2 separate regions of the Homo sapiens genome follow, and region 2 is linked to region 1. Evidence: fine-mapped QTL for protein levels in blood plasma. A gene starts in region 1. The other region holds a variant in brackets. All regions are shown on one strand. Distances are between the middles of the regions.

What was found. PIP is the chance, under the fine-mapping model, that this variant and not a neighbour inherited with it causes the effect. The UK Biobank Pharma Proteomics Project read protein levels with antibody pairs (Olink). The fine-mapping took linkage between variants from a reference panel, not from the people measured, so its PIPs are less certain.
Region 2: its variant is fine-mapped to the plasma level of the PLA2G15 protein (UK Biobank, PIP above 0.99).

The regions. Positions count from the first base shown.
Region 1 is chr16:68,241,408-68,249,735 of GRCh38, forward strand. It overlaps PLA2G15 (phospholipase A2 group XV), which reads left to right and starts at 3,966. Exons shown (of 6, transcript NM_012320.4): 1 at 3,966-4,146; 2 at 7,883-8,039. The coding sequence starts at 4,020. RefSeq lists enhancers at 2,772-3,310, 4,432-4,932 and a silencer at 3,786-4,015.
Region 2 is chr16:68,785,114-68,793,441 of GRCh38, forward strand. All of the region lies in intron 2 of CDH1 (cadherin 1), which reads left to right. Among named protein-coding and RNA genes, the nearest start is that of CDH1, 52 kb to the left of the region's middle. RefSeq lists enhancers at 1,630-1,774, 6,317-6,886, 7,021-7,165 and cis regulatory regions at 1,702, 7,093. The variant T/C (reference allele first, on the strand shown) is at 3,829.

The DNA of each region.
Region 1 (8,328 bases):
AAATGGACTCAGCTCTGGCCACCAAATCAGCCCGAAAGCCCTGAGCTTAGTTTGGTTGCCTCAAGCCTGGGATCCACCTAGTTCAGGTAGGGGAGCTTGGAGCTTAGGCCAGCGAGAGGGAGTGCAAAGGGCCAGGTAGCAGGAGGGGCGAAGGGTGTTGGCTGTGTGCTCACCCAAGGAAGATAGCACAACTAGACTGGCTCCTAAGTCTCTGGATTTATTCTGTTGATGAAAAGAGTCAAACTCTGTAAAATATTTGGACACTTTTTTTTTTTTTTTGAGACAAGAGTCTCGTTCTGTCACCCAGGCTAGCATGCAGTGGCGCGATCTCGGCTCGCTGCAAGCTCCGCCTCCCAGGTTCACGCCATTCTCCTGCCTCAGCCTCCCGAGTAGCTGGGACTACAGGCACCTGCCACCACGCCTGGCTAATTTTTCGTATTTTTAGTGGAGACAGGGTTTCATTGTGTTAGCCAGGATGGTCTCGATCTCCTGACCTCATGATCCGCCCGCCTCGGCCTCCCAAAGTGCTGGGATTACAGGTGTGAGCCACCATGCCCAGCCTGGACGCTTTTTTTGGATGGAGTCTTGCTCTGTCTCCCAGGCTGGAGTGCAGTGACATGATCTTGGCTCACTGCAACCTCCGCCTCCCGGGTTCAAGTGATTCTCCTGCCTCAGCCTCCCGAGTAGCTGGGACTACATGTGCCCGCCACCACGGCCAGCTAATTTTTCTATTTTTATAGAGATGGGTTTCGCCTTATTGGCTAGGCTAGTCTCAAACTCCTGACCTCAGGGGATCCACCCACCTCGGCCTCCCAAAGTGTTGGGATTACAGGCGTGAACCACTGTGCCCGGCCCTATTCAGACCTGTGAAAGGTGCTAAACTCTTAATCTCTTCAGGTTTGGGAGGGCCTGGAAGAAAATCTAGCTATGTTAATAGAGATTCTTTACAGATGCAAAATTTCCTCCACAAAGGACAGTTTTGCAGGACCATTTCCAAGTATGGCAAAGAAACATTGTTTTGGAATATTTTGACTTTCTTGTCACCTAATGTTATGCCAGAGTCAGATTGCAAAGTAAGTTCCGATATATAGGATTAAATAAAACCCATCTAATGAGAATTTATGGTTTGTAGGGCAAACCATACAATTTGAGATAGTAATTTGAGCAATATTAAAAAAAAAAAATCAGGGCCGGGTGTGATGGCTCATACCTGTAATCCCAGCACTTTGGGAGACCTAGGTGGGTGGATCACCTGAGGTCAGGAGTTCAAGACCAGCCTGGCCAACATGGCGAAATCCCGTCTCTACTAAAAAATACAAAAATCAGCTGGGCGTGGTGGCGGGTGCCTGTAATCCCAGCTATTCAGGAGGCTGAGGCAGGAGAATCGCTTGAACCCAGGAGGCAGAGGTTGCAGTGAGCCGGGATCACGCCACTGCTCTCCAGCCTGGGTGACAGAGCAAAACTCTGTCTCAAAAAAAAAAAAAAAAAGGTGTCAGCCTGGCATGTGGAGAACGACCCACAGGAACGAGGGCGTGCATTGGGACATCAGTGACGAGGCTGTTGTGGGAATAGGGTAGTGTGGTTTGGGGAGTGTAGAGCTGGCAAGCCCTTATGACCACCTGAGTTGTGGTTCTGAGAAGCATGGAAGCATCCAGAGCTCAGGATGATGCCAAGTCTGCAGCCTGGGGGATCAGGTGGATGGCAGAGTCATTGTGAAAAGGGAGGACCCTCACTTTCTGACCCTTCTCCACAGTGCCAGCATGGGTCATTGCTGACCAGGCCTTGCCATCCTGCCCCTAATGGCTGTGGTTCCTAACACATGCAGGGCCTGTGGGGTTGAAGCACCAAGGAACCCCTCTTGAGGACAGGGCTACCCTTCCAGGGGCCCATGGTCACCGGATGCTGCTGGGCTGGCAAGACATTTAGACTGTGGCCAGAGTCCAAGGTGGCCCAGCACCTCTTGATCCTTCTCTTCCTCCACATAACCTTTGACTGGACTTCTGCCCGTCCCTAGGCCTGCAGAAGAGTCTCTGGTCTCCCACGCTGGGTTTTCACCAGATGGGTCTTCACTGATCTTCTGTTGGGTCACGGGTGAAGGTGGGGGAGGCAGGGGCTTTGGGAGTGGGAGTTCTGAGCCAGGGCCTTAGCGGGAGATGGCTGGACCTTAAGAGAGGGTGGGGCTGGTCACAGTGGCACACATCTGTAATCTCAGCACTTTGGGAGGCTGAGGCAGGTGGATCACTTAAGGCCAGGAGTTCAAGACTGGCCTGGGCAACATAGTGAGACCCCAACTCTACAAAAAATAAAAAACTAGCTGAGCTTGGAGGTGTACACTTGTAGTCCCAGCTACTCAGGAGGCTGAGGTGGGAAGGATTGCTTGAGCCTGAGAGGTCAAGGATGCAGTGAGCCGTGATTGTGCTACTGCACTTGGGTGACAGAGAGACCCTTTCTCAAAAAAAAAAAAAAAAAAAAAAAAAAAAGGAAAGAAAAGAAAAAGGGGCCGGGCACAGTAGCTCACGCCTGTAATCCCAGCACTTTGGGAGGCCGAGGCAGGTGGATCACCTGAGGTTGGGAGTTCAAGACCAGCCTGACTAACATGGAGAAACCCCGTCTCTACTAAAAATACAAAATTAGCCAGGGTGGTGGCGCATGCCTGCAATCCCAGCTACTCGGGAGGCTGAGGCAGGAGAATTGCTTGAATCCGGGAGACGGAGGTTACGGTGAGCCAAGATTGCACCATTGCACTCCAGCCTGGGCAACAAGAGCGAAACTCTGTCTCAAAAAAAAAAAAAAAAAGAAAAAGAAAAAGAAAAAAGAAAGAGGGAGGGTGGTGGTAGCCCAGTCACCAACATGTTTCACTATAAGAACTCGAGAAGGGCAGGGCAAGATAGTGGCTTCATAGCCAGGTCAGCTGCTTACCAAGAAGAAGGAAGGAAGGGGCAGGACAAATTTCTTGGGACCAGGTGGGATGACCAGGGTGCAGCTGCCCCTTCGAAGGGGTGGGTGTGTGGAGGATCAAGACCTCTATTTCCCAAATACTCTCGTCCCTCTATCCCACAGTGACCTATGGTGCTGGCATATAACCAGCTGTCAGGTCTTTGCCCACTCTGTTCGCCCCTGCTTCCTGGCGCAGGGAGTCCATGTCCTCTCTGGTTCCCCAGGTTTGCGAGAGTGGAGGGGGACCACGAGCTCCCGATGCCTCTCCTGCTCTGCAGGGGAACTTGCAGATGGCCCATGGCGCAGGGTCGAGACTCAAGCCCACTCCCAACCCCGCGCCCGAACTGCCCGGACTGGCGGGGTGACGCTGCACTCTGCGCCCCTAAAACGAACAGATTAACCCCTCTCTTGGGAACTGAACATGCTGACCTGGCCTCTCCCGGTTCCCCCCGCATCTGTAACCCCGGGGCAGAGTTACAGGGGCTGACTGGCCGCACCCAGGTGCCCTCGGGGCAGGGTGTGCTAAGAATTGGTGTGGGGGCTGCACAAAGGTCCTGGTCAGCTCCTGGTCACCTGAGGCCCAAGAACTGTCCGGGACTCACTTCCTCTCTTCTTGCTTTAACCGGGGTCGCTCAGCAGCGGCCAGCGCTGCACCCCTTATCCTCTCCCGGTCTTGTCCGTTCCAGATCCTCCAGGTCAGGGGGTCGCCAAGTGAGAGCTGCGCAGCGTGGATTTCGGGTACCCAGGGCTGGGCGGGGTACAGCAGCGGCGAGCTGGGTTCCCGGGTGGGCGACTGACAGCCCGGAGCCAGGCGATACCTCGATCCATCGATGCGCTCGGCGCTCAGCGTGGTCCAGGAAGCAGGGGGTTGGGCAAGGGCGGGGCGGCGACCTCCGACTGGGAGGGGCGTATATGGCGGCGAGTCCCTATTGGCCAGCCATTTGCGGGAGGCGGGCCCTGATTGGCCGGGGGGATGCGGGGGATGCGGGCGGCGGGGTTAAGCGCGTCGCCACCGCCCCCGCCTAGGCGAGAGCCCAGAGAGCTGAACCTGCATCCCGGACCTGCGGCGACCGTCGTACACCATGGGCCTCCACCTCCGCCCCTACCGTGTGGGGCTGCTCCCGGATGGCCTCCTGTTCCTCTTGCTGCTGCTAATGCTGCTCGCGGACCCAGCGCTCCCGGCCGGACGTCACCCCCCAGTGGTGCTGGGTGAGGCACGGGTCTCGTGGTGGATCTGTCGGTCGGGCGGGACGGGCCGCGGGCGGGGCTGCCTTCCCGGTCTGCTTCTGTTCCAGTCACGAAATGGGGGAGCGTATTGGTATCTGTCTTGTCACTTAGGTGATCTAGATCTGCCGGCTCACCTCCCGCCATGCTGGGCGCGGGTGTGGTCAGCTCCCCACCTCCTGTCCTGGTAGAAAATGGGGGTGAGTGGGAGAGTTACCATCTGGTTATTCATAGTTCCACCTGTCCGCATCATTCCCAAGCCTTGCCTCCCCTTATCCCATTTTTAAGCTGGAAAGACAGGTGCTTCAGCCCCACTCCTGAGGGATGGTGGGGGTGTGTAGAGTGGCTCCTGAGTTGACTTCTGCATCGACCTGGGCCTGGTTAGGAGGCTGTCACCCTCGACCCCTCCAATGCCACATATGCCAGAAGGCATTGCTGAAAGGAACCTCCTTAGGGAAAGGATTGCTGTCCTAGCTGGCCACCAACTCCCACAACTTATCAGATGTGTGGCATTGCCTGAGGGAAAAGGCCTAAGGGAAACTGAAGACAACTGAAGTCAGGGGAAAGGGTTGGGACAATGGCCATGAACCTGTGTCAGGCAACATGCTTGTACTCTTACCCTGCCACACATGCTTGGACTAGACTATGTGGAGGCTCGGTGACCTCCCCTGCTCACCCCGCTCCTTGATCACAACCCTGGCAACTCTACAACGGCCACTGTATTTCCTTGCAGGGATGGGCAGGGATGAGACCTCTGTCTGGGGGGCCTTGGGTGCCTCATTGAGGCCGTCACTCCCATCCAGAGCTGGTGTGTCCGTGGCCAGCCAGGATTCCTGAAAGCAGAGGCATCTGAGGCATGAATTACACGTGGAGTCTAGTGCAGCATGATCTCCATGCTCTTTCTGCTGAGAGTACTTTAAATGGGGACGATGCAAATCACAGAAGGGTAGAGTTGGCAGGTAGGGTGGTGCCAGGCAGGCCCCACCAGGAGTTCCCAGCCAGGAAAAGCTCCAGGGGGATACTAGGCCCAGGTTCACCATGGGATTTGGGCAGACTTGGCCCTGCCTCCCCAAAGCTTGCAGGATAGGAATAACAGTGATCCCCAGAGAGGAAGTCTGTGTGGGGCAAGCACAGAGAATCCACCAACCCAGCCTGGATGGGTGGGTGTCAAGTAAGGCTTCCTGGAGTATATAGCTGGAGCTAAGGCCAGGAGAGAGTAATGGGTCGGGGAGAGACGTGAGCATCTCAGGCTGCCTGGGATCGAGTCACAGGAGGAGTGGACTGCACAGGACTTGTGACTGGTTGGGTCATCTGAACTTTATCTTGAGGGCCTCAGGGAGTCCTGGGTTGGCCTGCAGAGTTCTAAGTCTGAGGGGCGTGGCATTAGGAAGCATGTGGTCTGTGGCACACAAAATGGCACATAGCCATTTTGCCTGGATTGATGCTAACCGCACTCATCAATTCAGTCAGTCTGTTTATCCTTGGTCACAGCAGAAGAGCCTCAGACCCCACCCAGAATCACAGAGCAGCAGGAGTCCTAACATGCCCAGCTTCTCAGGGAGTGAGGCTGCTGGCCTTAGCCCTGGGAGACCTCACGGTGGGCAGTTGGATAAGCAGCTCCTGGGCACAGAGCAGGGATCTGACCTTGACTGTCAGAAGATCAGAATCCTCTAGGGGTGGATCCTGAAATGGTGGTGGAGGAAAGAGAGACCAGCGATGTGATACAGAAGACCCTGGGCAAGGGGAAGGGACCATAGGCAAGGCCATTTCCACCTCTTGCAGCCTCAGTCTCCCCATCTGTTAAGTGGAAATAGTAAGGCTGTCCCCTCCCAGTGTTACTTGAGGTGAAAGGCATGTGGATGGCTCTTTTCCTAGTTCCAGGCGCAGATGGGCTCAGGAAGTGGCCACTGCTATTTTTAGGGGCCACACAGCCTGACCAGGGTAAGGAGCATCTGAGCAAAGCAGATCTGGTGACTTCCTCTTTTACCATTTCCCCTTTGGTAGAGACAGTGACCAGGGTCTCTGCCCTGCCCTGCCCAGTCCACAGGCATGTCATCCAGAGGCTGTCATGACAGGGACTCCCTCCCTCTGCACCCATACCATGAAGGGAGGTGAAGGCATGTGCCGCCCCTGCCTCTCATGGCACCCTGAAGACACTGGGATGGTGCCCAGGGAGGGCACGCCCTGTTCAGGGTGGATTTACGGTCAGTTCCCAGTGAATGTCCAGGAGAGCCAAGTGCTGGTTTTTCACTCAATGATCATGGACCCTAAACGGGGATGTGTTTGGGAAGTGGCGAGAGCATGGCATGTGGGGGCAGGTGAGGCCCGAAAGGTCAATGGGAGTAACGAGACTGTGAAGGGCTTTGACGCAGTGGGGAGGGATTTGGGTGTCACCAGGGCCCCAGAGTTCTGAGTACACTGAATAGGATGGCTGGGATGGAGAGAAGTCACCCTAGGGCCTGGACTGTGGTGATAATGGTGCTGGTTCAGGGTGGCTGTTTCCAATACGGGCTCCCAGCCATGCTAGGGCCCTCCAGATGATCTGCTCTCTGGCACCTTACTGGACTCTGGCCTTTAGTAAGGCCTGGGCCCTTGGTAGGCTGGCGGGTGCCAATGTAAGCTTCTCTCAGCTGTGTTTCTGTTCATTTCCCTCCCACCAGCCTGTCCTGCATACTTTGTCTGGTTGAATTTTAGCTGAGTGGCCCAGGGCTCTGTTCTGTTTCCTTCTTCCTCTCTCAGGGCGAACAGGACCCTGTCTTCTATGTAGCCTGGGATAGCTATGGGTGGAAGACTTTTGGGTTCAAGCCTCCAGGGTATATATCTTTTTTTTTTTTTGAGACCGGGTCTTGCTCTGTCACCCAGGCTGGAGGGCAATGGCACGATTTTGGCTCACTGCAACCTCTGCCTCCCGGGTTCAAGCAATTCTCCTGTCTTAGGCTCCTGAGTAGCTGGGATTACAGGTGTGTGCCACCACACCAAGGTAATTTTTTGTATTTTTAGTAGAGATGGGCTTTCACCATATTGGCCAAGCTGGTCTTGAACTCCTGACCGCAAGTGATCCACTCACCTCGGCCTCCCAAAGTGCTGGGATTACAGGCATGAGCCCCTGCGCCCTGCCTCGAAGGTATATATCTAATGACAAGGGCCTTGGCCAAACTTTGGAGGTTCTGGAATGCAAAGGGGTCTCCAAGCCCCTCCTCCCAGGCAGAGCTCCCATCGGGGTCCATTAACCATAGAAACCATGTGTAGAGGTGTGTCTGTGTTTGCTGGGGGTGATTCAGACCAAGATCTCATTTAACAGATACGGAAACTGAGGCCTAGTGTGGGGAGTGACTTCACCCTGAACCCCCTTCCAATAATCTGAATGGCCCAGGAGGATGTTCCAGTGAAAATCCAGGAGACTTACTTTATCTGGAGTTGGAGACAATGTTAGGGCCCTTCCCCAAACATGTCAGGCCTCTCCCAAGCCCCCCACAGGCATCTCTGCACCACACAGCAGTAGCAGCTTTTCTGCACAAAGATGGTTCCCTGGCCTTTGGGTCAAGGTCCCTGCTCTCTGAATTTCCTGCCACCAGCACTGTGCTTTAATTTGAGATGTGGAACTGCACAGGTCTGCCATATTATCTGTGGCTCTTCAGGGGGTCTGCTGCAGACATCAAAGTTCTTGGGAGTCTTGAACCTGCCGGGCTGAGGGCTCACACATGTCCTGTGCCCCCTGCAGTCCCTGGTGATTTGGGTAACCAACTGGAAGCCAAGCTGGACAAGCCGACAGTGGTGCACTACCTCTGCTCCAAGAAGACCGAAAGCTACTTCACAATCTGGCTGAACCTGGAACTGCTGCTGCCTGTCATCATTGACTGCTGGATTGACAATATCAGGTGGGGGCTGGGGCACACAGAGGGGGGTGCTGCTCACCAACAGTGCCTGAGAGGCCTCCAGAGTCTGTTCCTTCTATCCTCATCTCGAGGTCACTGACCTCTCTCCTTCCCCAGGTCCTCGGTCTGGTCTGGTCTGGTCTGGTTGGCACCACCTCTGCACTCCCAGGCAGAACTAACTTTCCCTTCCTGCTGCCCTTGTTCCTCTACTCTCCAGTCCTGGCCTCTCATGCCTACACACAATTTTTTTTTTCTTTTATTTTGGGATGGAGTCTTGCTGTGTCACTCAGGC
Region 2 (8,328 bases), 540 kb after region 1:
AATCTCACTTGTTAGTGTCTTTTAAAGTTCTATATGTAACTATAAACAAATATGAACATATATTCTTTGAGACAGAGTCTTGTTCTTTTTTTCTTTGAGATGGAGTCTTGCTCTGTTGCCCAGGCTGGAGTACAGTGGCGCGATCTCGGCTCACTGCAACCTCTGCCTCCCAGAATCAAGCGATTCTCCTCCCTCAGCCTCCCAAGAAGCTGAGACTACAGGCATGCACTACCATGCCCAGCTAAGTTTTGTATTTTTAGTAGAGACACGGTTTTACCATGTTGGCCAGGCTGGTCTCCAACTCCTGACCTCAAGCGATCCACCCACCTCAGCTTCCCAAAGTGCTGGGATTATAGGCGTGAGCCACTATGCCTGACCAAGACAGAGTCTTGTTCTGTGGCTCAGGCTGGAGTGCTGTTGTGCAGTCGTGGCTCACTGCAGACTCAAACTCCTGGGTTTAAGTGATCCTCCCACCTCAGCCTCCCAAAATGCTGGGATTACAGGGATAAACTTATTTCTTATCCCCTTCTTTTTAGTTACACAAAAGATAGCACTGCTTTGCACTTGCTTTTATCAGCAAACAATAATGTGTCTTGACGATCATTCCCCTGCAGAGCATAAAGAGCTTTTTTTTTTTTAATAGGTTCATAGTATTTCATTGTAAGGAAATTCTATAATTGATTTAAACTAATCCTCTATTGATGGCTATTTGGGCTGTCGCCCATGTTTTGCTAGCACAAACAATGCCTTAGTGAATAACCTTTTACATACGTCATTTTTGTGTGCAAGCTTTCCAGTTTCACATCGGAAAATGGGAACAGTCCAGGTAAATGGCCCATGGAGCATTTCTGCAAGAGCAGCAACCAGGAAAATAAAAGGCTGGAGAACCACTGCTGGAACAGGTGCCCCATCTCCTTGTGGTGGTAGCAACAGTACCACAGCATCTTGTGAGTGACCTGTGGCTGTTCTCCAGTGTATGCCAGAGTCAGATTCTGGCACCTGTGGGTCACTCTTCTTCATGCTCTTTTCTTTTCTTATTATTTTTGCCTACTTGGAATTCTTTTTTTTTCAAATTTGAGACAGAGTCTTGCTCTGTCGCCCAGGCCGGAGTGCAGTGATGCGATATTGGCTCACTGCAACCTCTTCATCCTGGGTTCAAGCGATTCTCCTGCCTCAGCCTCCCAAGTAGCTGGGATTACAGGTGCCCGCCACCATGCCTGGCTTGTTTTTGTATTTTTAGTAGAGACAGGGTTTCACCATGATGGTCAGGCTGGTCTCGAACCCCTGATCTCTGGCGATCCACATGCCTTGGCCTCCCAAAGTGCGGGGATTACAGGGTTGAGCCTGCACCTGACCCTACTTGGAATTCTTGAAGTGAGCCCCCCAGTCTGAGATCTTTCTGCTTTCTTTTTTTTTTTTTCTTTTTTTTTTTTTTTTTTTGGTATTCAGGAGGATGCAGCATGGGTTGTAGGCTTCATTTCTCAGGAGCCTGAGCCAAGGCACACATATAGTCTGAGCAGTTACCTTTCCAGGCAGCCAGAGTAGATTCAGCAAATGCTCTTGGAAGCAGCTGCCTTTCCCATCAATGCTTATTTGTTCTTGATAATGAAAAATGATGCTAGCATCCATTAAAAGAGAAAAGGCATCCTCTTGTGAGCTCTATTGGACAAGTGAGCACTTGTTGTACAGTCATCTGCAAGCACATGTGACCTGGAGACTGTGGGAAATGCCTCACTTCGCAGTGTTGGCTCCCAGCTGTTCTCTTGGGCTGTTTGAGTTTTGTTCCAAAGGTCAGAGGCAGAGGGTCCGAGCCTTTCCAGCACAGCCCACATTTGAAAGTAGTGCAAGCCTCACATTCATTCTTTGTAGAAGGTTTCCAGATCTTGTTCTTGAGTTATTGAATGATTCAAAGGTTCTGAATTCCACAACGGCTTTCCTGTGTTTTTGCAGCCAGATTCAGCACATTTTGGTGTCAGCCAGTGCTTGGAAAATGTGGCCCTAGATTGATGCGTGTTTATATCTGGGTTGTGTTTTTTATAGAGAATAAATCTGTGGTTACTTTTACCCATCCCACATTGCTGTTAACTACCCCTGGAATTTCTCTCCCTCCGCAAGCCTAGTGCTGAAGAACAGAAGCTTTGGTGCTGGCTGGTTCTGGGGCGAATGTTCCTTCAGAGGCTGACCTGCTCTGTGACCTTGACAAGGCCCTGACCTTGAGCAAATGACTTAAGCCTTTCGCCTCAGTTGCTCATCAGCATTAAGGGGGTTAAAAACCCCTACCTGCCTCACAGCAACATAGGAGTCAATGTAAAGTTCACAGTGCCCACACGTAATGACTGTCATAGTGAATATTTACTCTCAAAAAGATTTTTTGTTTTCAGTTTTTAGTTGTTGATTTTTTTTTTTTTTAAATAGAGATGGGATCCTACTATGTTGCCCAGGCTGGTCTCAAACTCCTGGCCTCAAGTGATCCTCCCACCTCAGCCTCCCAAAGTGCTGGGATTACAGGTGTGAACCACCATGCCCAGCCTATAACTATTGTTTTGTTTTGTTTTGTTTTTTGGAGATAGAGTCTTGCTTTATCATCCAGGCTGGAGTGCAATGGTGCAATCTCAGCTCACTGCAACCTCTGCCTCCTGGGTTCAAGCAGTTCTCCCACTTCAGCCTCCCAAGTAGCTGGGATTATAGACACCCACCACCACGCCCGGCTAATTTTTTTTTTTTTTTTTTTGAGACAGTTTCACTCTTGTTGCCCAGGCTGGAGTACAATGGCATGATCTTGGCTCACCGCAACCTCCGCCTCCTGGGTTCAAGCAATTCTCCTGCCTCAGCCTCCTGAATAGCTGGGATTATAGGCATGTGCCACCACGCCCCGCTAATTTTTTGTATTTTTAGTAGAGACGAGGTTTCACCATGTTGGCCAGGCCTGTCTTAAACTCCTGACCTCAAGTGATTCGCCCTCCTTGGCCTCCCAAAGTGCTGGGATTACAGGTGTGAGCCACCGCACCCAGCCTACTGTTAATTAAGAATTGTTTATGGCTTCTCTTCTCTGCACTTTTTCATAACCTTGGCATTTTTGGGTGCCTGGATTCTTTCATTTTTGAACCATAGGACTTTGACTGATGGGGTATTCCTCAAGAGACCCTAATAGCTATATATTTCTTACTGGTTCATTGAGATTTAATTTACATACCACACAATTTACCCACTGTAAGTGTACAGTTAGATAATTTTTATAAACGTACACAGCTGTTGAGCTGTCATCACAATCCAGTTTTAGAATACTTCCACCACCTCCCAAGTTCCCTTGGGCCTATTGGTAGTCAAGCCTAACTCAGCTCCAGACAACCCTTGATCTGCTTTTTGTCTCTAGTTTTCTAGATTTTTCATATGAACTGTGTACTTTGGTGAACAGCTTCTTTCACTCGGTGTAATGCTTTTAAGGTTCATCTATGCTACTGCGTTTTGTGATGTTTGATCCTTTTTATTGCTGAGTAGCTATACCATATTTTACCCATCCTAATTACTTTTTGGGTTGACTGTATATAAGCCACATTTACACATTTTTTTAAATGGGTAAATGTGAAATAAGAAGAAAGTTGGGGCTGGGCATGGTGGCTCACGCCTGTAATCTCAACACTTTTGGAGGCCGAGACGGGTGGATCACAAGATCAGGAGTTCAAGACCAGCCTGACCAACATGGAGAAACCCCATCTCTCCTAAAAAAAACAAAAAACAAAAATTAGCTGGGTATGGTGGCGGGCACCTGTAATCCCAGCTGCTTGGGAGGCTGAGGCAGGAGAGTCACTTGAACGCAGGAGGCGGAGG[T/C]TGCGGTAATCTGAGGTCATGCCACTGCACTCCAGCCTGGGTGACAGAGCAAGACTCTGTCTCAAAAAATGAATGAATAAATAAAAGAAAGTTGGACAGGAAGATCCGTTCTCACTGTGTCACCCAAGCTGGAGTGCAGTGGCCCGAACATGATTCTCTGCAGCCTTGACGTCCCCAGCTCAAGTGATCCTCCTACCTCAGCCCTCCCAAATAATGGGGACTACAGGTGCATGCCACCATGCCCAGCTAATTTTTTTTTGTATTTTTTGTAGAGATGGGCTCTCCCCATGTTGCCCAGGCTGGTCTTGACGGGACTTGGACTCAAGTGATCCGCCCACTTCAGCCTCCCCAAAGTGCTGGGATTATAGGTGTGAGCCACCGCACCTGGCCAGGTGTTTAAAAATAGAATAATGTCCAGAACCTAATTTTGGAGAACAGGATGTAAAGGGATGCAGGACAAGGGAGTAAATGAATTAGGAAAGGGATATAGACCAGGATCTGAAGGACACATATCAGGTGTTAGCAGTGGTCTCTCTGCAAGGATGGGCTTGTGAATACTTTGTGCGATTGGCTCATCTTTTTTTTTTTTTTGTAACAGCTTTATCGAAACATAATCCACATAGCATATATTACACCATTTAAAGTGTAGAATTTAACAGTTTCCCTTATAGTCACAGACTTAAGCAAGCGTCACCACAATCAATTTCATAACATTTTCATCACCTCCAGAAGAAATCCCTCACTCCTTAGTTGCTACTGCCCCAGCCCTGGACATCTGGATTCAGTTAGTCTGAGGCAGGGGCCCTGGCTGAGTATTTTTAAAAAGTGCCCCAGGAGGCTGGGCCCGGTGGCTCATGCCTGTAATCCCAGCACTTTGGGAGGCTGAGGCGGGCGGATCACATGATGTTGGGAGTTCGAGACCTGCCCGACCAACATGGAGAAACCCCATCTCTAAAACTACAAAATTAACCGGGCATGGTGGCGCATGCCTGTAATCCCATCTACTCGGGAGGCTGAGGCAGGAGAATCACTTGAACCCGGGAGGCAGAGGTTGCCGTGAGCCAAGATCACACCATTGCACTCCAGCCTGGGCAACAAGAGCAAAACTCCATCTCAAAAACAAAAACAAAAACAAAAAACCCAGGAAAGTCTCTGTGCAGCACATTAGACCCTGAATGGAAATGATGTTAGGAGGCATTTTGGTGCATGCTTTATTTCACCAGTCGGAATGTAAGCCTTACCAATGTCTGTGAGGGCCCAGGACTTGTTCTCCCACATCTCAGGCCTGTCAGCTGCCCTTTCCTGCACGGGGCATCAGGGAGAGAGAGGAGGAGGGATTTAGTAGCTTTGGAATTCAGTACATGGGGTCTCCCTAACCTCGGGGAATCCAACAGAAAGAAAAAGGAGGAAGAAAATGTGATGATTTTCTTTTTAATCAGTAAGCAAACAGTTCCTAGAGTTGCCCAACCTGACCACAGGAATGTTTCCTGGGTTGCAGTCCATGAAAATGATCAGTTACGGCCTCTGTTTCGGCAGACAGGCTGTGTTGTTACGCATGCAGCCACAGCTGGGACAAGAAAGCCCCTCCAATTTGCTGTGAACCCAGAGGGCCTCCCCATTCTCCTTATTCTTTTTGAGAAAATCAAACGCATTTCCCTCCCTAAGACAGGTGGGGAAGCAGTCCCCCTCCAGCCTCCGCCTCTGCAGGAGGCCTAATGTCGCTGCCAACTCCTTGCTAGAATGGAGATGAGTTGTTTTTCTCCCCTCTTCTTGAAAACAAATTGAGATGAGATTCCTTGCCAGTTGGTGTTGACTCTGGAAAATTGAAACCAAGCAGTTGGTTTTGACTTGAGCAGAGAAGCAACCCCAGCTTCTCCAGTCAAGGCAGCAGATACCAATCCAGGCAGGAATATTGAGATGAAACTGAGTGAGGCTGTTAATCAATGGGCACACTGGCTGTTGCTGTCCTCTCTGGGAGAGGCCTGGAAAGAAAAATGATTTAAAACTAAGTTCCCTTCTGGCCTTGTTGTCAAGAAGGGTATGGGGTATGGGGAGGCAATGAGGCAATCTGGCCCGCAGGAGCAAGAGCTAACCTTTCTCATAGGCCTGTGCTAAAATCATGTTAATTCCACTTGAATGTTGGCCCCCGGGTGGGCAGGAGTGGTTATCTGTTGTGATTGTGGCTGGATCTTCAGTACTAGAACAGGCTGCCCCCATGCAGGAGGTATGCACACAGTAGGTGTGCAGGCTTTGAGTAGACCTTGGAACTGTTCCCCCGCACTGCCGCCTGCTCTCTCCCTTACTTCAGCACACAGCTCCAAGCTGGGGCAGTCTCTTTCACTTCCCTTTATTCCCTAATATGCCCTAATATTCCCTAATGTCCTTTATTTAGTGAGTTGTCCTGCCTGTCACATAAAGCCCTTGGAAATTCCTTACCTGCTTATATTTCTCTATTACACTTTTCATTCCTGATACTTTTTTTCGTTTTCTTTCTTTTTGGAGATAGCATCTCAATCTGTCGCCCAGGCTGGAGTGCAGTGGCACAGTTACAGCTCACTGCAGCCTCGACCTCCTGTGCTCAGGTGATCCTCCTGCCTCAGCCTCCTAAATAGCTGGGACTATAGACACGCGCCACCACACCCAGCTAATTTTTAATTTTTTGTAGAGTTGGGGTCTTGCCATGTTGCTCAGGCTAGTCTTGAATTCCTGGGCCCAAGTGATCCTCTCACCTCGGCCTCCCAAAGTGCTGGGATTACAGGCATGAGCCACCATGATTACTTATTGATTTACTTGTTAATTATCTCTTTGACATTGAAATGAAAGCCCCATGAGGTCAGGGACTTTGCTTTGTCCATTGCTGTATTTCTCAGGCCTTAGGATGATGCTTGACAAAGAGAGTAAGGGCTCGCTAAAGATTTACTGGAGGAAGAATCCTTGAAGCAATCCCTCAAAGGAGGTGGGGACGTCTGCCTATGTATTTTGTTTGTTTATTTTTTTGAGATGGAGTCTCTCTCTGTTGCCCAGGCTGGAGTGCAGTGGCGTGATCTCAGCTCACTGCAACCTCCACCTCCCAGGTTCAAGCAATTCTCCTGCCTTACTCTCCCAAGTGGCTGAGATTACAGGTGCCCACCACCATGCCCAGCTTAAATTTTGAATTTTTGTAGAGATTGGGTTTCACCATGTTGGTCAGGCTGGTCTCAAACTCCTGACCTCAGGTGATCCATCTGCCTCAGCCTCCCAAAGTGCTGTGATTACAGGCATGAGGCACCACACCCGGCCTAAACACTGACTTTTTTTTTTTTTTTTGAGATGGAGTCTTGCTCTGTCGCCCAGGCTGGAGGGCAGTGGCGCAATCTTGACTCACTGCAACCTCCGCCTCCCAGGTTCAAGCAATTCTCCTGCCTCAGCCTCCCGAGTAGCTGGGATTACAGGCATGCGCCACCACGCCTGGCTAATTTTTGTATTTTTGGTAGAGACAGAGTTTCACCATGTGGACCAGGCTGGTCTTGAACTCCTGACCTCAAGTGTTCCACCCACCTCCCAAAGGGCTGGGATTATAGGCGTGAGCCAGTACGCCCTGCGACACTGACTTTTAATCAATTCCAGAAGCGCCATTCATGACCCTTCCCCCCGGGCTGGTTCTGATCAACACCCATGGCGTTTGCCGTCAGAGAAGGAAACAGCATTTGTCCAAGCAGAACCATGGTTGGGAAAGCAAAAAGACACCCTTTGCCAGTGTGACCAAGTCGCTTGAGTAATCTTAAACAAAGGGAAAAAGTCAAGGGCGATGGCTTACACCTTTAGCCTTGTTTCTCCCACTTCAGAAAGTAAAGGGTAAAGGGTCCTGGGCTAATTTTTCCTTAATCTTCAATGTCACTGTTTTCTCTCTCCACCCCCGTCTGCTTTGATGGGGACAGAAGCCAAGGGGACTTTGCTCCCTGCTTCCCATCCAGGCAGCGTTCGTTGTTGACATCTGTTTTCAGGGTGTAGCTCAGTGAAGACAGAGACGATACATAATTTGTTCTGGGCACATATGTTTGGGGGACGTTAGAAGGAACTTGATAAGCTTCATGCAAATAAACTTCCAGTCCCTGGGAACCCATGGGGGTCGCCTGTCAACAGGGGTGCAGGAGCCGCAGCTGCCACCCTGAGAGCACATTGCATGGATGTTGTGGGCACGTTAAGAGTCATGCTTGTGCAACGTGATACTCCAACCTGCTTATCTTCCCTGGAAAAATGTTGTGGTTGACGTTGGCAGTTTAGAGGAACTTTGACTTATTTCAGCTTATGCAAAGTGGTAACATACAGCGAGACCTTTTTGAAACTGGAGTATAGTGTGGCTGTTGGAATATCCTTAGGTTTCTCTGAGGCCTGGAACTGGATTTCCAAGGCTCAATTTTCATCCAAGAAGAGAGGGAGTGTGTATAATGATGCTTTTGCCGTTATTCTCATTCAAGTTACTCTCCAACTGTCCTATTCTTTTGTGAGAACTAACTTCTC